Linked DNA regions of Homo sapiens: region 1 is linked to region 2. The links come from fine-mapping of genetic effects on gene expression. A gene starts in region 2. The other region holds a variant in brackets. All regions are shown on one strand. Distances are from middle to middle.

What was found. PIP is the estimated chance that this variant, and not a neighbour inherited with it, causes the effect.
Region 1: its variant is fine-mapped to the expression of NOSTRIN in stomach (GTEx, PIP above 0.99).

What each region holds. Positions count from the first base shown.
Region 1 is chr2:168,877,112-168,885,111 of GRCh38, forward strand. SPC25 (SPC25 component of NDC80 kinetochore complex) reads right to left here. Exons shown (of 7, transcript NM_020675.4): 4 at 127-273. Among named protein-coding and RNA genes, the nearest start is that of SPC25, 9.3 kb to the right of the region's middle. The variant A/G (reference allele first, on the strand shown) is at 4,230.
Region 2 is chr2:168,797,099-168,810,480 of GRCh38, forward strand. NOSTRIN (nitric oxide synthase trafficking) reads left to right here and starts at 5,539. Exons shown (of 16, transcript NM_001039724.4): 1 at 5,539-5,575. The coding sequence starts at 5,549. RefSeq lists enhancers at 1,361-1,655, 4,983-5,482.

The DNA of each region.
Region 1 (8,000 bases), 77 kb after region 2:
TGGTTATGCCCTGGGGTACTGTAATCCATTTTTAGCAATGAACTGGAACAGGCAAGATGTACTTAATAAAGGTGAACCGTCACCACTTTCCATTTTAGATCAGTATGTTTATAAGAGGAAACTTACTTTCCTTCTTCCTAGAATATTCTTCCTTAAGATCCTGGATATTTGCAGTCAGTACTTCCAATTCCTGCTTTTTGCCTTTTACTTCAGCAATCAATTTTAACAAGTTATCCTTTTTTTCTTGAATGAGCTTATTTTGCCTGCTGATCTCTGTAAGAAGCACAAGGTATTAGCTAGAATATGCTTGGCTCTCTGACATGTATCTAAGAAAAGGCCAAAGTTTACTGACTTTCATAAAGATTAATAAAGAATGTTTTGACTGATAAGCATTTTCTAATGATTCAAAATTATAAAAGACAAAAAAGAAAAAAAACCTAATCTATTCTTTCCTACTTACTCATCTTTAAAAAAAATGAGACAGAAAAGCTTCTTAAAATGAGAATACCAAATTAAATCAAGAAACAGAAAATCAAAAGATCATGACCCTTGCAGCTCCCCACTCCAAATAAGCACAGAAATAAAAACTACCAACAAAGATAACTAAACTCTATTATTTATTTTATTTTTATATTTTTTTGAAACAGGGTCTCACTGTTGCCCAGGCTGGAATACAGTGGCACAATCACTACTCATTGCAGCCTCCCACCTTAGCATCCCTAGTACCTGGGACTACAGGCACACACCACATCACGCCTGGCTGATTTTTAAATTTTTTTGTCTCACTATGTTGCCCAGGCTAGTCTCAAACTCTTAGGCTCAAGCAATCCTCCTACCTCAGCCTCTCAAAGTGCTGGGATTACCAGTGCAAGCCACCACGCCTGGCCAACAACCAAACTCTAGAAGATGGTTTTAAACAGTGCTTTGAGGAAAAGCCTCACTCTAATGCTATATAAATTATTCCGGAACATACCAAAAGACAGAAATAAGTGAAGGAAGACAGGTGGGCAGGCAAAGCTTACAATGTAAGCATAATTCTAAAGCTAAAACAAAAAATTAAAGATAGCACTGGCCCTCTGCCCACAACTATATAAACTAATCTCACTTAAAAACATAGGTGCAAAGATGCTCAATAAAATATTAAGTTACATTAAAAATAATCCACTAAGAGCAAATATAGTTTATACCAAGGATTTTACATAGTGAAGGTGTAATATTAGGAAAATCCATCACATGAATAAGAATTGAAGAGACATTTCATATGAATTCAGCATCCACTCCTGACTATTCTTAACTATAAATGGAAGGACATTTAACATGATAGAAACAAATCAAAAACCTTTCAAATCTCATCATATATATTTGGCATTTCCAAAAGGAATAAAATAGATGCCAGTTAGCACTGTTATTTAATATTTCCCTAGAAGTTTCTGGCCAAGACAAGATATTTAGCTGGTAAAACTATAAGGAAAAAACAAGAACTATTTTTCATTATATGTAGACAATAGACATCTATCTAGAATACTCAGAAAAATCTACTGAAAACCTATCAGAATTTGTGGTACTACACCCCAAAAAAATCAATAGTTTTTGTACATAACACCAGTGATTAATACATAGGTAAGAATAGATGTTTATACTAATATTAATAGCTGCAATATTCGTTTTTGTTCTTTGTTTTTATTGGTTTTATTAGTTTTTGCTATTCTGTGCTATTTTTAAGTACTGGCATACGTTGGAGATATTGCAAGTTCTATTCCAGATCACTGTGATAAAGCGAATATTGCCATAAAGCAAGTCACACAAATGTTTTGGTTTCCCAGTACATAGAAAAGTTATTTTACACTATATTGTAGTCTATTAAGCGTGCAATAGCATTATGGCTAAAAAACAAATGTACATATCTTAATTAAAAATATTTTATTGCTAAAATATGCTAATAATCATCTGAGCCTTCAGCAAGTCCTAAACTTTTGCAGGGGGAGGGTCTTGCCTTGATGTTGATGGCTGCTGACTGATCAGAGTGGTAGCTGCTGAAGGTTGGGGTGGCTGTGGCAATTTATTATAATAGGACAACAATAAAGTTTGCTGCATTAATCAACTCTTTCATGAAAGATTTCTCTGCAGCATACAATGATGTTTGACAGCATTTACCCCTGGTAGAACTGTTTTCAAAATTGGAGTCAGTCTTCTCAAACCCTGCGCTACTTTATCAACTAAGTTTATATAATAGTCTAAATCCTTTGTTGTCAGTTAAACAATGTTCACAGCATCTTCACCAGGAGTGGATTCCATTCCATAAAACCACTTTCTTTGCTTATCCATAAGAAGCAACTCCTTATCCATTCAAGTTTTATCTGAGATGGCAGCAATTCGGTCACATCTTCAGGCTCCACTTCTAAATCTAGGTCTCTTGTGATTTCTACCACATCTGTAGTTACTTTCTCCATTGAAGTCTTGAACCTCTCAAAGTCATCCATGAGGGTTAAAATCAACTTCTTCCAAGCTCTTGTTCATGTTGATATTTTGACCTCTTCCTGTGAATCACGAATGTTCTATGGCATCTAGAATGGTGAATCCTTTCTCTGGAAGGTTTTCAATTTATTTTGCCCAGATCTATCAGAGTTAATCACTATTTGGGTAGCTATAACCTTATTTCTTAAATAATGAGACATGAAAGTCAAAACTACCCCTTGATCCATGGGCTGCAGAATGGATGTTGTCTTAGTAGGCATGAAAACAACACTAATCTCCATCAGCGCTCTTGAGTGACCAGATGCACTGTTAATGAGCAGAAATATTTTGAAAGCCATCTTTTTTCCTGAGTAGAAGGCCTCAACAGTGGGCCTAAAATATTCAGTAAACTATGCTATACACACATGTGCTGTCATCTAGGCTTTGCTATTCCATTTATAGAACATAGGCAGAGTAGATTTAGTATAATTCTTAAGGGCCCTAGGATTTGGGGAATGGCAAGTGAGCACAGGCTTCAACTTAAAGTCACCAGGTGCATTAGTCACTAAAGAGTCAGCCTGTCTTTGAAGCTTCAAAGCAGGCCTTGACTTCTCTCTAGCTATGAAAGTCCTAGATGGCATCTTCTTCCAATAGAAAACTGCTTTTTCATCTACATCAAAAATCCGTTCTTTAATGATCTGTTCATTCAATGATCTTAGCTAGATAACTTGCTGTAGCTTCTACATTAGCACTTCTGCTTCATCTTGCATTTTTATTTTATGGAGGCAGCTGCTTTCCTTAAACCTCAAGAACCAACTTCTGCTAGCTTCAAACTTTTCTTCTGAAACTTCCTCATCTTTCTCAAGCCTTCACAGAATTGAAGAGGGCTAGAGTCTTACCCTGAATTAGGCTTTTGCTTAAGGGAATGTTGTGGTTTGTTTGCTCTTCTATTAAGGCCACTAAAATTTTCTCTAACAATAAGGCTGTTTCTCTTTCTTATCATTCGTGTGTTCACTGAATTAGCACTTTTGCTAATTGGCGCAAGAGGCCAAGCTTTCAGCCTATCTCAGCTTTTGACACACTTTCCCACTAAGCTTAATCATTTCTAGCTTTTGATTTAAAGTGAGAGACCTATGACTCCTTCTTTCAGTTGAACAATTAGAGGTCACTATAGGGTTATTAATTGGCCTAATTTCAATACTGGAGACTAGGGAGGCCCAAGGAGAGGAAGAATGACAGGAATGGCTGGTCAGCAGAGCAGTCAGAAGTCATTCAACATTTATCCATTAAGTTTGTCATCTTATATGGGTGTCATTCATGGCACTTAAAACAATTACAATAGTAACGTCAAAGATCACTGATCATAGAGCACCACAAGAAATATAATAATGACAAGTTTGAAATCTTGTGAGAATTACCAACATGTGACAGATACGAAGTCACCACATGCTGATGGAAAAATGGTGCCCACAGACTTGCTTGACACATGGTTGCCATTAACCTTTAATTTGTAAAAATTGCAATATCTGTAAAGTGCAATAAAGTGAAGTGCAATAAAACAAGGTATCCATGTACCAAAATACTGGCCTTTTACATCTGTCTCACATATTGGCCAGCACCTCATTACTCCTTCTTGGCTTTAATCTCTCTACCTTCCCTGCCTTCCCCATGTCCCTGTCACTCTCTGTACAAGTTCTTCTTGCCCTAGCCCTCTTAAACACTCAGCTTCTGCAACTACCCACCCCTTTCTCACACACATGCTCAAAATAAAAACA[A/G]CAATGCCTGTGCATAAACCTGGCCAAACCTCTCTGCTGGGAAAGGAGTAACCCTGGCAGGACCACTTCTTCCTCTGTTTGTTGGAAGAAAGATACAACCGCTGCTACTTGGGGCCCATTGCACAGAGATGGTGTCCCCAAAATGCCAATCAGGGGGCTAGACAAAGCAGGAAGGCACAAAAAGCATAAGAGCTCTAGGGCAGAGGCTACTGAGGTCAAATAAGCAGAGCCAGTAGAGCTCAAGTGGTGCTTTATAATGTGCTTATGAATTTCTGAATTAAAGATTTAGTTTTACTAATACTTAAATGAAATCTAAACACTTTAAAATCGAATGCCAATTAATGCCAGTAGTCTAGAATTGTATCAAATAAACCAAACTATCTATACTGTCATTTAATTCCAGTATCATAATTACAAGTAAATATGTGCTCCAAGGATGAGTAATCTTTTTCTCAAAGTTAAACAAGTTAGTCCATCACTGAATTTATGAAGACTTTAAATACCATAAATCTTCAAAAGAGAAATACACTATGATATGTTTCCCAAATTGAAGTGAGCATGGAATTCTCAGTGCTTGAACAACATCTCTCAAGACAAGCATTCCTCAGGCAACAGGAAAATCTCGTTTACAGAGGTAACAAACAGAAAATTCAGAATCAACCTAGATCAAGAAATATGTAGGCTCTGTTTGAAAAAAACTGCAAAGCTTGTCTGAGACACATATTTGATCTGGATATATGAAGAGATATTTTATGCTTCTAAATATTATAAAAGATATGCCAAACAAACGTTGGCAGTTAGGAAGTTAATATGATAAATGAAATATCAAATCAATGTTCAAGAGGTAGATTATTCTCTAAACAGTGCCGAAATCCAAAATAAATTCTTTAGTCTTTTACTACTTTTTTAAAAGAAGAGGAAAAACACTCAGCAGTTCAGTAACTTGCCCAAAGCTGTATTTGCTAGGCTAAAATAAATAATAAGGGCCAGGCATGGCGGCTCACGCCTGTAATCCCTGCACTTTGCAACGCTCAGGCTGGCGGATCATGAGGTCAGGAGATCGAGACCATCCTGGCCAACATGGTGAAACCTCGTCTCTGCTAAAAATACAAAAATGAGCTGGGCGTGGTGGCGTGTGCCTGTAATTCCAGCTACTAGGGAGGCTGAGGCAGAATAGCTTGAACCAGGGAGTCGGAGGTTGCAGTGAGCTGCGATCACGCCACTGCACTCCAGCCTGGTGACAGGGCGAGACCCTGTCTCAAAAATAAATAAATAAATAAATAAACAGACAGACAGACTGCATTCAAACTCAGGTCTTGACTTCAAAGGCAATGCTTTGCCCATTAAATTATCCTCCTCCAACAATGGGTTACCATTTTAATCTCAAGAGGAAGACACAAATACAAATTCCTAAGAAAAAAACAGACAAAGGGATAAACAGATGAAACACAGAATGCAGATGGCTAATAAATATGAAAGATAATTTAACCTCAGATTAATCACAGAAATGCAAGTAAAACAGTAAGATTTCAATTTTCATTTATTACAACAATGTTTACAGAAATAATTACTAATATTGAGAGGAATGCAAAATGCTAGGGTCCTTCTAGAAAATATTTTTGACATTGTAAAATAAAAGAGCCTTAAAAATATTTACCTCCTTTGACCCAGCAATTTCATTTTTACAAAGTTACCCTAGGGAAATAGGATACGTGCAAATATTTATATATAAAAATTATTTTTCAGTATTTATAATGAAAAACTGAAAACATCTTCAATGGCTAACAAGCAAATGATTTTTAAAATATGGTATATCGATAAGATGGAATGTATTTTCAAAACAATTTAGCAATGTGGGAAAATATTCTCAAAGTTGAAAAAAAAAGATAGTTATATAGATACCATGAATATAATTACGTTAAAAACCTACATAGCTCATGAAAAACAAAAGCTAGAAAGTTGTTTTGTTAAATATGGTTCTCAACATTACAGGTGATATTTTTTGCTTTTCTGTATGTTCTAAGAATATGAACATGATCATATATTACGTCAAGTATAATTTAAAAATAAACATCTTACTAGAAAGAAAAATGCTACTATTTAAAGAAAAAAATTAAGTAGAATTGTACTACACAAGAAATTCAGATTGAAAGTCAAAGGTCTCAAGTCTGATTCAGCTTATCAGTTCTTACCCAAAGATCTCGGTCAAAATCACGACTTCTGAAACTCTTTTGCTCATTTGTAAAATGGGGATAACATTGGCTACCTCATTCACTGGGGTTAGAGTATCCAGTAATAATAATACAAAAACTTTTAAACTAGTGACACATAAATACCACATATGAGAGTGTTTTTATTATAACATTTGAAGAACTGTGTGATTTGTGGCCAATACAAATATAGGAGTCCTCGATGCTGTATGACCATTTTTTTTTCTTTTTTTTTTTTTGAGATGGAGTCTCGCTCTGTCGCCAGGCTGCAGTGCAGTGGTGCAATCTCAGCTCACTGCAACCTCCGCCTCCTGGGTTCAAGCAATTCTCCTGCTTCAGCCCCCTGAGCAGACAGGACTACAGGCACTCACCACCACGCCCAGCTAATTTTTATATTTTTAGTGGAGATGGGGTTTCACCATGTTGGCCAGGATGGTCTTGATCTTTTGACCTCGTGATCCGCCTGCCTCGGCCTCCCAAATTGCTAGGACTACAGGTGTGAGCCACTGCACCTGGCCTGCTGTGTGACTATTATTACATGTGTACATAGCAGGCTGTCTTATTCCCAGGACCGACATTTCAAACTTTCACTCCTACACACCAGAGGAACCCTTCTTTGCATTTTCACTCCAATGCACGTCAGTATAGCACAATGGAAAGAGCACAGACACTATCATTGTGATCCTAGATCCTCTATTTACCTTAGGCAAGTTTCTTAACCTCAGTGAGCTTCAATTTCCTCATCTGTAAAACAGGGATAATCTCTGTCTTAGACAGACTTCAGGATTTATAATAATGTAAAAGCCTGCCCATAGTAAATACCTCTCACTTTCAATAGATGATCTTCCTTCTTGTGATAATTAGAATTTATGGCTCCAGAACTTTAGGCTATTTTGTTCTCTGCAGTATCTTCCTAGAAGATTACCTGGTATACAGCAGTAGCTCAACAAGTATTTGGTCAGTGAATGAATTCCTTCCATCTTTCTTGTTCCCAAAATATCTATCTCAATCTTTACCTTACTGGATCTACCTGTGACTTACAGTGTTAACAACACCCTTTATTATTTCTCTCCTCTTTTAGTTTTGGTGACCTTCTCTCTTACTTCCTCTGTTCTCCAATTACGAATTCTGTCTTTCCTGGTCGTTTCCATTTAACTCTCTCAAATTGGAGAGGAAATGTAATGCTCTGAAGATGAGTAAGGCTTCTGGAGTTAATCTGATGATCTGGGGCAAATCATAATCTCTCTGGGACTGCAATATCAGAAAAGTAGGAATAATAATAATAAATGATACCAACCCTGGAGAACTATCATGAGGACTGAAGGAGGTGGTCAATGTAAGGCATTTAGCACAGTACCTGGCACACAGTAATGAGTAAATAAATATTATTACTAACCAAGGCTACCTTCTTTCACTCTACATATTCTTCCACAGCTTCAACCCCCTAAATACACTAAAGACTCACAAATCCCTATCTTCAGCAAAGACCACTTTTCTGGCTGGCTTCCAGATGAATATATCCATTGCCTATCAGATATCGCCACCTGAAGACTTGCTGCAC
Region 2 (13,382 bases):
TTTGGAGACAAGGTCTCTCTCTGTCACCCAGGCTGGATGGAGTGTGGTGGCATGAACACGGCTTATTGCAGCCTCGATTTCCCCAAGCTCAGGTGATCCTCCCACCTCAGCCTCCTGAATAGCTGGGACTACAGGTACGTACCACCATGCCTGACTAGTTTTTTTATTTTTTATTTTTGGTAGAGATGGGGTTTTACCATGTTGCCCAGGCTGGTCTTGAACTCCTGGGCTCAAGCAACCCTTCTGCTACAGCCTCCCAAAGTATTGAGATAACAGGCATGAGCTGCCACACCCAGCCTAAACTAATACTTTCAACACAATAAGATAAACAAAGTAAAAGAGGTGTGTGCAATGGATAGCAGTAGTACAAAGGCAAGAGTTCACTCTCTCTGGGGAAAGCAACACAAGCTAGACTTTGGAAATAAGTAAAAGTCAGCTGGGCCAACATAAAGCTATAAGGACTTCCCACTGGAAGGGACAGCATAAGCAAAATCCTAGAGATACAAAAATAACATGTCATCATCTCAACTGTCAGTTCTTTTTTTAAAATTAAAGTTAGCATAAGTGTTAACCTTAAATTTTTTTTTTTTTTAATGTTGCTTGGTGTGGTGGTTCACTTCTGTAATCCCAGCACTTTGGGAGGCCAAGACAGATGAATCGCTGGAGTTCAGGAGTTTGAGACAAGCTTGGGCAACATGGTGAGACCCTGTCTCTACCTTGTGCCTCTGTTGCCCTGTGGGTATTATAAGGATCAAAATAATACATATCTACCTCAAATGATAACTGTGATGATTAAATAAGTTAATAAGTCATCCCGCAGTATCCATGGGGCATTGGTTTCAGGATACCCCCTCATATCAAAATCCAAAGATATTCAAGTCCCTTATATAAAATAGTGTCATATTTGCATATAACCTACACACATCCTCCCATGTACTTTAAATCATCTCTAGGTAACTCATAATACCTAATGCTATGTAAACGTTATATAAATAGTCATAAATACTTATTTGTATTTTTATTGTTATTTTTAAAATTATTATTTTCAATCTACAGATGCAGAACCCAGGGATATGGAGAGCCAATTGTATTTGTAAAACACTTAGAATGGTGCCTGACACGTGGTATGTCCTTTAAATGTGGGCTCATATTACCATAAAGTATTTAACTAGGTCTCAATTGATGATGTTCATGCTGTTGCCAATTCTTTGCACGCTTTGGCTACTAAAGAAACTTCCAAGGCAAGTTTTGAATTGCCATGAGCTTCTATTACATTTGGGCTCCTTTTTCTTACTAGCTTACCAACACCCAATATTTGTTTGTGAATACTTCATAAATGCGTACTCATGTTGTTAACTCCCCTTAGAGGCAGCACAAAATGTCAAAGTTGGAGTCCAGCAGAGCAGCTTCCAGGCCAGACCCTGGAAGGGAATCCGTTGCAGGTTTTCTTTCTGCAGAGAGGCCATACCAGGAAGGCACATGCTGAGCAGAGACTGAGAAAGAAAGCAGGAAGATTAGGATAGGAGAGGTCAGACAGTAAATCTAACCGGAAGCCAGGCTGGAAAGCAGCCAGAGTATGAGTGCGGGTCAGAAATGTAGGACCAGAGACGAATCTGAGAACAGAGAACTCAAAAGGACTCTTTGTGCATTAAAATTTTCAGAAAGTGTGAATGGCATACCTTCTTGGAGGAGATGCTTCGATCGATCGATCGATCGATAGATAGATAGACAGACAGACAGACAGACAGAAGATAGTTCTTGAGAGAAGAAAAATGGCTTAGAGCAGTCTGAGCTATATGAGGTATGCAAAATTTATCAGGCCCAGAGAGGGGAGTATGGGGCTCAAGTCTTGCTCTGCCTCCTTGAACCCACACCTAGAAGCAATCATGTAAAGGCATCTTGTTCCTGACTAGCTGCCTCATCTGCTATCTTTATGGTCCTGGAATTTGTGATTCACAGAACAGTGTAGAGCCAATCAACAGCTTGTGTTATTTTCATGGAAATTCTTGGCAAACAACTCAGGAGCTTCCTCTTCCTCTTCTTTTCCTTTGAAAACCTACTTGTACCTGCTGCTAACCAGAGCGTATACTCAGGGCCACTTGAAACTATGCTCTTGGGTTGCAGCCCTCAAGCTTGGCCCAAGTAAATGCTCTACTTATATTAAGTTGGCCTCAGTTGTTCTTTCCTTTAGGTTCACATTCTCATCAACCTGTAGGTACAAATGAGGTTGTTAATATTAATTCCAAAACTACAAGATTCTTTGCTCCTCTTACTCACATGGGAACTCAGTCTCCTCCTCCCAAAGTCCCCTTGGGCCATTTTTGGGGACTGGAGGAATTCTCACATGCTCGGGGACAAATGTGCTCACTGTGGTCTGCTCTATCCTTCTCATCAAGATGCCTCACCTACCTGAGCCTCAGTGGCTGAAGACAACTTAGCAGGTTCTCCCTGCTGCTGCCTCCTCACAACCCATATCCAGGAGAGGTGCTTTTTGCTGTGCTCCTTAGCAGAGTATGTGTAGGGTGGAATGTGGGGTCAGAGGAGAGAACAGCCCTTATCCGTCTAGAGTCTTTTATGATTTAGGTCCTCTTATTTCTCTTCCTAACGCCAGTCTGCTGAGGTTCAAAACGTGTCACCCCAGGCTGGATTGGGGAGAGGGAAAGAAAGACATATACCAGCCACCTGCTCCTTGTCCTTGCTGCTTTATCTCTAGTCATTCAAGAACAAATATTAAGCAGCCATTGTAGTAAATTGAATGGAAAACTAACTCCAATTGTCTGCCCCTCTCTGTCTCTATGCCCTTTGCAATGGGACACTAAGTTCCTCCTATTATGAAGTGGAAGCTCTCCTCACCCCTTTAATCTGGGCTGGCCCATGACTGGCTTTGATCAGCTGGATGTGGCTGAAATGATGGGATGTCCATATTAAGCTGTACCTCCAGAGGCCTCGAGCTCTTCCACTCACTCTTGTGGCTCCTCTGCCATACCCTGAGAAGAGCCTGGTTAGACTACCAGCTGATGAAATACGGCCTCAGCCAACAGCTAGCTCCCAGCCAGCCCCCTGCCCAGAAAAGCCCAGATGCATGGCTCTGCCAAGCCCTGTGTAGATGACCTGCTTTTACATGAGTGAGGTCAGGGGACACCTGAAGATCCATCCAGCTAAACTACAGATTTGTGAACCAAATAAAGTCTCTGTCATTTGAAGCCACTGGGTTTCTGTTTGTTACACAGCATTATTGTGACAAAGGATAAACGATACCAACCTATTTCTGACCTCCAAAATCAAGGCTTTTTGCACATTCAAACATTCCTCCGAGAAGCTCAACAAATAGCCAAGTTCTAATTCTCAGTCTGGATTCAGCTGGGATGCCCTGCTGCCCTTACAACGGCCCAGTGGCAGACAGGAGCAAGATGGAAGGATTTTAATTCAGCAGATGTCCAGGAGGTCTGAGGGAAAGCTAGTCAGCCCACTGGGAATGGCACACATGAGGAGTTTGGGGATAGGAGTGCCCTACCAATCTATAATTCGTATACAAAGATCACAGTAGGCTTTGTGTGACAGCACTTCTTATGGAAACTGGCAAGGGAGGCCAATTTCCTCAGTTTGGACTCAGTTGGGACTGAAATGAAACACAGAACAGCAAGAAAAATGGGGCAGGAATCACAGAGAAAACATTGAGCTGTCCCAAGTCCTGGAATGGTGGCTCCGGACAAGTTTATCTAAAATCTCTGAGGGCAGAGAAGCCCCCTCAAGTGGGAATTTGAGTTACATGTTATTAACCTCAGTCTATATCCTGTCTCTAAATTTCTTTTAAAAAAAAAACAAAAAAAGAGATGGGGTGTTGCTATGTTGACCAGGCTGGTCTCGAACTCCTGGCCTCAAGCAGTCTTCCCATCTCAGCCTCCCAAAGTGCTAAGATTACAGGTGTGTGCCACTGTGCCTTACCTAAATTTCTTTTATTATACAGAGTTGCTTTGTCTAATTCTAGCCCTGTGGTAGCTACCCAAGATTGTTGTAACCTCCAGTGATCAAGTTCTTTGGATAAGCAAAGAGGGAGGGCATTAAGTGTGTGGAAAAGACCCCTCCTCTCCACTCTTGTTGCAAGGCAAGTTCTTTTCCTTAATTGTCCCCTGACTCTTCTACGTTGTTTCTGGAAGCTTTTTTTTTTTTTTTTTAGAAGTAGAGTCTCACTCTATTGCCCAGCTTTGAACCCCTAGACCCAAGAAATCCTTCTGCCTCAACCTCTTGAGTAGCTGGGACTACAGGCACATACCACCACATCCTAATTAAAAAAAAAAAATTATAGAGATAGGAATCTCCTGCTATATTGCCCAGGCTGCTCTCAAACTCCTGGCCTCAAGTGACCCTCTAGGCTCGGCCTCCCAAAGTGCTTGGATTACATGCATGAGCCACTGCAACTGGCTTATTTCTAGGGACTTTGAATGGAGCCTGCACACCAGGGGCAGGTGAATGGAGGCTGAGTCAGCCAGTCAGGTGAAAACTGAATGCTTTTAAACTCTGAAGTGTTCCACTGGACTGTGTTGATGGAGCTCCTTTCAAACTGGGGCCTGCCCTTGCCTGCCAGTCAAACAGAACTGTCCACAGTCTAGCAAATGGCTGTCGTACATCAATAGGCCATTCATTGGAAATCTAATGATTGGCAACTGGGACCACAGGTACAGGGAATGCAATAGAACTCAAGCTGTGGTTGAGTTCTTGTTCTGTCTATCCTTTTGAGTGATGAAAAATGAGGCCAGATCTAGGCAATTTTTTCTTTACATTGAAAGCTTAGCCTCTTGATCCTGTTGGGGCTGGAGCGAGTGTGGAGTTAGGCTCAGAGAAGTGGTTAATGTACGCTTTGCTCCTGATAGCTGTTTCTGAACATTCTATAGTTATAGTTCTATAGGTGTAGGTTCCTAGTTGTTTGGTGTCTGGCCCTGTGGGATTTAGGGGGTGGGGGAATATGGGCTTGGTATTTGAGAACTGGGTAACAGAGATGGTGGGGAGGTTTGGGCTCTGGATTTGTTGGTTTGCATATTAAAGGAGTGCTCACAGGCCAGTTGTTTGCTCTCTCTAGGAATTAGCTAACCCTCAGAGAGGCAGTCTGTCTCCAAGTCCATGAGGTCCCCAAAGGTCAAAGCATCATACAATACAGAAAATAAAAAGCATGATTAATACTGCAGGCTGAGAGGATATGTGTTCCTGCACTGTCAGACCAAGCGCAAGAATTGTTGGAGACATGTTACAGCTTCTCTGCCTTCTCTCAATGTTACGCTGTTCAGGACTCAGGATCCTGCCCTCTGAGGGTTTACAGAAGTCATTCTCACTATCTCACACTGGCCGTCTTGACCCAGAGCAGTTCTTTACTTTCTCGGGACACAAACGGGATGAAAGTCCAGGGCTGGGACTTCCTCCTTGGAATGTTTGACAAGGACTGACGTACTCTAGGCCCTTTGAATCCCGGAAGTCCAGGACACACCCAACCTTGATTACAGTGTCCAGAATGCTGGAGCGTAGGTGAAAGGACAAAAGCCAGACACATTTCAACATGAGGGACCCACTGACAGATTGTCCGGTGAGTAGCTCAGTGTGGTTTGTGTGCCTGCGTGTGAGGAGGGTGGAGGGTGGATTTGTATATTAATGGATTTTAACTTAAGAAATTTGAGACACTCAGAAACCAAACACATTTAGATATTGGCTGTGGTGCAAAAGTTTGTGGTTTTTCTTTGGTTCAGTTTAAAAACAGAGCTTTTTCTAGGAAATGACAGGGCAGGTAATTGTCATCTTTCCTTCTCATATTCTTGGAAAAAGTTTTGAGAGAGTAAAGCCTCATATTTGGATCCAGATGGTGGCTGTTTGGAAAACATTCTTAAGACATACACCCATGGTGCCAACATCATGTGTGGTGTGGATACAAAAACACACAGAATGTCTGCAGCCAATTTTTGGCTCTGAGAATAAAGTGAGGGAGGAGAGTTTTTGTGCCTTTTCACCCTCATTTTTTGGAGTCAAGGATCACAAGTCCTGCAGGAGGAAGGATAGACTCCCCACTCTGCCTGGCCTGCAGTGGCTCTCAGACTGGTTTAGCAGCATGTTTGTTCCATGTTTGTTCGTTTTGGTAATGTTTGGAGCACTACCAAAAATATAAGTTTGGTCAGAAGTCCAAAGACATTGTGAGGTCTCCGGCGGCAATAGCAGAGATGTAATTTAGGAGATAAGAAGCAACTAAAATAAAGGGGGGGATATGTTTACTTTGAAAATAAAGTAATTAAGGAGGGTCAGTGTTTTATCCCAACACATGGGGCTGAAAAGCTAAGATTGGTGACATCATAAGCAGGAGGTTGCAGTCATCCTTCATGTATTGATAACACAAACTGTGGGGCGGCAGATAAATGGGCGCTGAGATAAAGTCATAAAGAAAAAGATCAGCAGAGGATTATTGATTTCCTTTTTGTTTATTCAATGGATAAGAAAAGCACATGGTTGGAAAAAATGGAACTATAGTTACTATTGCAGAAAATCAGATGAGCTAAATGAGATGAACTCATAAATGACTAGTAATTTTAATAATGACAACATAGTAGCCAATTCTGCCTAATTTTCCTTTTTTTAAATACAGAAATAATTTGTGCTTAATGTAGAAACAAATTCCAATGATATGGTTATATATAGATTTTTAAGAGTGAAACTTCCCCCTTTAATTACTTCAATCTCAGTGTTCTCTCCATTGTTAATTGTGAATAATTTTTAAGAAGTCTTTTATCATTTATTTTTCTCTCCTTGAGGTTGCTCCCTGACTAAACTGTTAAATCCTCTCCTGTCTCAACACTCCTACCTCAATGTTTTTGTATAGGGGCGGCAGGCCAGGACAGGGATGGGGTAAGTGGCAGCAAAATCTTGGCACTAATAGTAACCAAAGAAGAAAATTAACACCAGGGAAGGGTGCAATGGACAGAAGACAGGGAAATGGTGGGCAGCTTTAATTAAGTTTAAAAAGAGAAGAAGAAATAAATCCATAAAAAAGAAACTGAAGGTCTAACATCCTTTTTGTAGACAGCAAAGTCAAGTCTTCAGACGTGGAGAAATGTTTTCTTTCAGCAGCCCCCAAGGCAACCCATAACCACACTTCTGTGTCTGCTTAAAGCTCCACTCCCTGGCATGCTGAATAGTTCCTTGTGCTATGCTGGGCCAAGGACTCCTGTCCTTGTCTAAAACTTTGAAGGTCATCTGTATGGGCTCATTGCCACCAAAAGTATCCGGGAGTCATGGGGAGGGCGGATATCCCTTCAGCCTGGGTTTCCAAACCCTCTAAACTCACAGAACATTTATTTATTTGCAATTGTTTCATCTTAATCAAGTGTTCAAGTTGATTTCCTGGCACATTCTTAGCTTGTACTTGGGGAACAATGCTATGTGAAGATGAATCTGCGGTTTGGGAACAAAATAAGACAAGGAAATGGATTGCAAATGAGTGCCTCATGAAACATTTAGGTAGTTTTATAAAAGAACCCAAAGCTTTAACCACCTGCAAAATGTCCCCTTCCATGAGTCCCTAGAGTTGCACAGAGCACAGTTCATAAAGTATTAGCTTAGCTACTGTTCTTAACCGGGCCCACACCAATGTACCCATGTATGGAACTCAGTGGGTTGCATGAACTTCAGTGAAAAAAAATCTCTATTTGTACTAATTTCTAACTGAAATTTAGAATTTTATTCAATCCAGAATATAGGCAACAAGCCCCAATACTATTAGTCATATCTGTATAGTGTCTGTGACTTTGTAACCAATAAAAATCAGAAATTTTATGATAACATTACAGTTGTTGCACATATCTAGAAATATTTACATTCACCCTGACTTCAAAATGTTGGTAATACTTAAGATATGTAATTTAGTATGTTAATAAAAAAGCACATAATATCATAATTTTAAAAATACATTCTAAAAAATATATAATTCATTTCCTTTTTAACCCTACGCTACTTAAAAATGTTATTCTGAATCAAATAGGTTTCATGAGACTACAAAAAGGGCTCATGGTACGAAAAAATTTAAAAATCTCTTTTAGATCAAGCTCTAATGGGCAAAATAGACTGACAGCTGGGCCTTTCAACCTCAAAGAGCAAGGTCAGTGTTTGAGTTCAAATTGTTGCCAGGGTGGCATAAGATTGCCTAAATGCTGTGTAGGATTAATCTTGAGAGTGTCAGAACTTATTTGAAAAAGATATCTGTAAGATATCTTTAAAGTTCTGTTTTTGACAAGGAAAAGAATTGGCTCTGGGCCTTGATGTTTCATTGCCTATGAAGGTTTAGGTTTAGCTCTTAAACCTAAAAATATGTCTAGGGAACTCATCTTCAAATCCATGTGCAAGAAAGGCGAAGTAAGATCCAATTATCTCTAAGGGAAAGAATCCAATCATAAGAAAGTATTAATAGCACCTTCCTATCAAACAATCACATAGAAATCAAGGACAAGTAACAAGCTGTAGCCAAATTTTTGCTTTTTACACACTCATACAGTATCCAGGAAGGGGTCTGTCAAAGCAAGTCTTCTGGGCGCCACACAGTCAGCCCCTCCCCGCATGTCATCGGCCATTGAAATGGCACCAGGCTGCTCCTCAGGTTGGTAACCTGGCTCAGATGCCAACCTGAGCTTCCCATCTTGGTGGCTTAGCCTGGATATCAGACAATGACTGTCACTAACTCAGATGGTGCCGGTGCCATGGTCCGTAGCTCCTAGGAGAATCTGACTCGCTGCAAAAATACAGAAGGAGGCTGCATATGGCATGGGTGTCACGTGGCCCACAGCCTCCCCAGTGTGCATCAGTGAGATGTGTAACATGCCATTCCACATTTCTTGGACCTCTGTTTCCTTGTGTGTAAAGTAAAAGGAGGAAAGGATGGAGTAGACTATGCTCTTTAATGTTCCATATCCCGTAATCTATGACAGTCTGCCACAGGGATTCCAAATACTACGCAGATGGTGAACAAGTACATGGAATCCCTTCAGAGAGGGGCAGTGCTTTGAAACATCACCCCCAGTGAATCAGAACTCACATGATATCAGTAGCACAGTGCCTGGCGTAGTAAAGGCAGTCAGCAAAGTTCATTGTGTTAAATTTAAGGGGAATATCATGGTTTCTTTAACACTGTGAGGATCATCACTAATCAAAAAAAATCCTTCTGTACTAGCATCAATAAAAATAAATTTTTCTATAACTTTTTCTAGAACTAAATTTAACCCTCTTAATCATTCAAGCAGAAAGAGCAGGTGGGCCAAGCTTGATATAGGCACTTTATAATCTTTACAAGTCGCCTGTCTAAACATTTCATGTGCTGACTGGCTGGATTACTAAATGTTTTTTGTAATGGCTATATTTATCAACAGAATTTGCTTACAAGTGCTGGGAAGAAACATTTTCCTAATGGCCGAATGGGAAATGTCTGTCAAATAGACCAGTTGTCTATTTGAGAAGGGGTTATTATTTTTTTAGGGGCTCAGGAAGATCCCAGGTATTCCACTACCAGACTGAAATCCCTTTATCAGGGGAGAAAAACCTCATCGTGTTTTTTTCCCCAATAATTAATGGTCCCCAGGAGAAGCAGCATATTAATATGAATTCATATGGAGATGTAGAATCAATAGTAGATTATTCCCTGGAATGAATATTTGATAGGGGGTTAGGATATTTAAAAGCTCAATGGGTAGGAAAAGAACACCAAAATTGCCTTCCACCTGACTGCACTTCTTCTCAGCAAGCTCTTCTTCTTGTGCTGGTTAATGACATCAAGAAGCCAGCTGTATTGCACATAACACTTAAAGGCTACTATAACTTGGAGTAAACTTACTGTGATTATACAGATTAGCCATTTATAAATGTATTTGTTTCTGATGGATTCTCTAATTGATTTTCATACCTAACATTTCTAATCACAACTCTGTCTCTAACTAATTAGGTTATCCTTATCTCTTTGGGTCTTAACTGTAAATAAGGGAATTAGACTTTGGTGGCTTGCAAACTGTGCTCCATGGAACCCTTTCAGAGTCCTCTCTGGTGGGTGGGAGTGTGGTGAGGTAGGAGTGAGACAACCAAAACTAAAGTCAAGTGATTTCACCCCCACAAAGCAGGTAAGTTCCAAGATTTTCTGAACACACACACACACATACATACACACACACACAGAGAGAGAGAGAACTATATGGTCTCTGGAAGTCTGCTGTAGCATTTAAGTGGGTCTGCTTTTCACAGTTTTTGTCTCCAAGTCTCAGTAGATGGTACATAATGAAAAGTACAGAATGATTGATTCTAAATAAGGGTTTATGCTGGGATAATGAAAATATTCTTAGCAAATCTTTTATTTATTGATGTCACCTTTATCTCAATCTGGATCAAGGTTTGTTGGGGGAATTTTTGGCGTATAGTATATAGGATCAAGGGTAAAGATTCTCTCCATTGCTCTTGTAAGCACATCTCTTATCTGATCGCTAAATTAACAACAAGTATGAAGATCTTCTCAACTTGCATGTGCCTGGGCATACTGGCGTTTGAGGTTTGAGGGTGGGTTACAGGTGTACCTTAGACACAAATCCTCTGCACCGTTGAATTGGCAGAGTATGGCTGGGAGCGAGGTACGAGGCAAAGCCATGGGCCAGTTCCCTCTTCCTGGAACAATTTTGTCCATTTACCACACTCTACCAGTACAAATATTTGCTATGTGCACCATTTTGGGACAAAAGTTAGAAAGTACTGGTCTATGAAATGACAGAAAATCATCTTCCAAAATCTAGACCTGGTAGCCCATGGGTCAATGGAAGCCATAGACTGTGCTTTGGTCCAGCAGCCCCTTACTTTAAGAGGTTGAATGTGAATGCCTTTGCCACAGGCTTCACCACTGCCACTGAAGGCAATTGAGTTTTCAATCACTGGCTTATAAACTTTCAGCATGGCCTAGCCTCCTAAAACTAGTTCCCTTGAGACAGTATTTAAAAATGTGTCTTAGGGAGTTTTGATGGCTTGATAAGTTTAGGAAATGCAGCAGCCCCTGTAACCCAAGCACATAGAAAAATTCTCAACTGGTTCTACTCATTTCTACATTGGTTATGAGCAGAGTTTTCTCTACATGCCCCCATTCCACGCTTGATGTCCAGGGTCCCTTGTTCTCTCCCATAGGTAACTTCTATGTGCAGACTATCCTGTGGTGATGGTGGACTGGTAGGGCCTTTCCCTTAGGACATTTCATCTCAGAGTCCCTTCCTTCCACTCCTGCTTCCCCTAATGGGAGGTTCTTTTTCTCCTTCCCACTCTAAATCCCTCGAATCCATCTCTCTGCTTTCTTTTCTCCCATCCTCAGCCCCAGCTTTATAGTGTGTTTGAGAGCAGAAGAATTTACTCCGTAAACATGCATCCAGGTCTTTCTCTCTTGCACAAGGCCCCATGGCTTTTTGTTGAGTCTTTGTTTCTGCTTTGCTGTGGGCTGGAGAGAAGTCAATAAGACAATACATAAAAATCCATAGCTTAATACTGTGAGATATTTCTAAATAAATCAAATAAGAAAGCCACAGGACCTATAAAGAAAATCATAAAATTTTATTGAACATAAAATAAAATTTGAACAAATGCAAAAACTTACTATGTCCTTGGATAGAAAGTCTAAACACCATTAAAAAGTCAATTTTCCCAAATTGATACATGTATGTAATACAATTCCAATTAGGATCCCAACGGGGATTTAAAAAGAAATGTAATTAGACAAATGTTCATATGTTAGAATAAATGCCTCAGAATAGCCAAATAAATTATGAAAAGGAAAAAAATAGTTGTTTAAAGAGAAAGCAGAAGCAAAGTGTTAAAATCTCTATAACTTAGGTAGTGAGTACATAATGTGTATTATTATTTTCTGTATCATTATGTTATGAAACATAAAAGTGTTTCATAATTCAAAGCAAAAAGACCCTGTATGAGTTAGAACTATGTTCAGCTGCATATTAGAAAAACCCCAAATACATATGTCTTTAGAAAACAACATTGTATTTTTCTTACACATAAAATAAATCCAAAAGTAGAGAGTTGAGGGCTCGTGTGGTGTTCTTCACAGCCATCAGGGACCCAGGCTCTTTTTCTCTTTCCACTCTGTGATCTTAATGCATTATGTCCAATCTCAATACCACTTTATGGCTTTGGCCTTCATTTTCAAGTCCAGAAGGAAGAAAAGAGGGCAAACAAGCCTTTACTGAAACCTCATACAAAACCTTCCCTCACATCTCCTTGGATAGCTTTCAGTCACATGGTTATAGATCAAAGGGGGAGGGAGGCTGAGAAATGACCTTATTTCAGGAGTATGTACCCCACTAAACATTTAGGCATTTTCTTCTCATGACACTGAGGTGTGTTTCATGGGATGCTATTAAGTATTATAGAAGAAAACAAAAGGCTTAGGGAGAAATCTAGTGGAAATGTTTAGGTAACATAGGAGTAAACAAAGAGGTTAAACAAGTTTCTTTACTGCAGGTCTTCTCACAATTTGAAAATACTCCCTTAAACTTTCCCAGTGTGCTGTAAGGGTAGGAAGGAGGCCTTAATAGTATCAGACCATTCATATATGGTCTGATAATAATAAATATATTATTATATTATTTTATTAAAATATTTATATATTAAATATAAAAAATAAATAATAAAAATAATAAAAAGTTAGTTTTATTGGAAGTAAAAATTAGAAAGCTTGATTGCCAAATAGTGATTTTACTTTCATGACTGACAGGAGGATTATTTTTCCTTCATGAGAGAGGCTACAAATTGGAACCTCACTACAAGTGTGTTTTGTTTACACTGCAGAGAGGTTTTTAATTTGTGAATTGTTTGCTACCATTAAAAAAAAATCATGTTTCGGATGCAAATCCTGATTTCAGCTTTTTTGGACAAAGTGGGAGATCTGGCTTTCCTGGGCCACATTCCAGGTGGCAGTGATGGGCCAGAATGGTTCTAGCAGCTGCCTCACCAGTTCACGGTCCTCACCCTCCTCCTCACTCATTCAGGTGCCTGACTGGTGCCAGCAGCCACAGGATTTTACAAACTCTGCTTTAGAAATTAGCAATTTCCTCATTAAAGCTTTGCACCCTCACCACTCTCCTTGTATCCCAAGCAGTTTCAAGTCCTATCACAGCTTTCTGTGTTAAATTCACAGGAAAGTTAAACTACTGCATAAGGGTAAATGGATATGGTAAGACTGTTCCTGTATCCTAGGCGTTGGTTTGTTCCATCCCCAAAGGTAGGGACCTGGATTACCTCATTTCTTTAGGTCTTTCCTCCTCTGTCACCCTATGTCCTTAGTTTGATACTCTGCTAAGCACCACATACCAAGTGCTTTGTTGACTGAATGG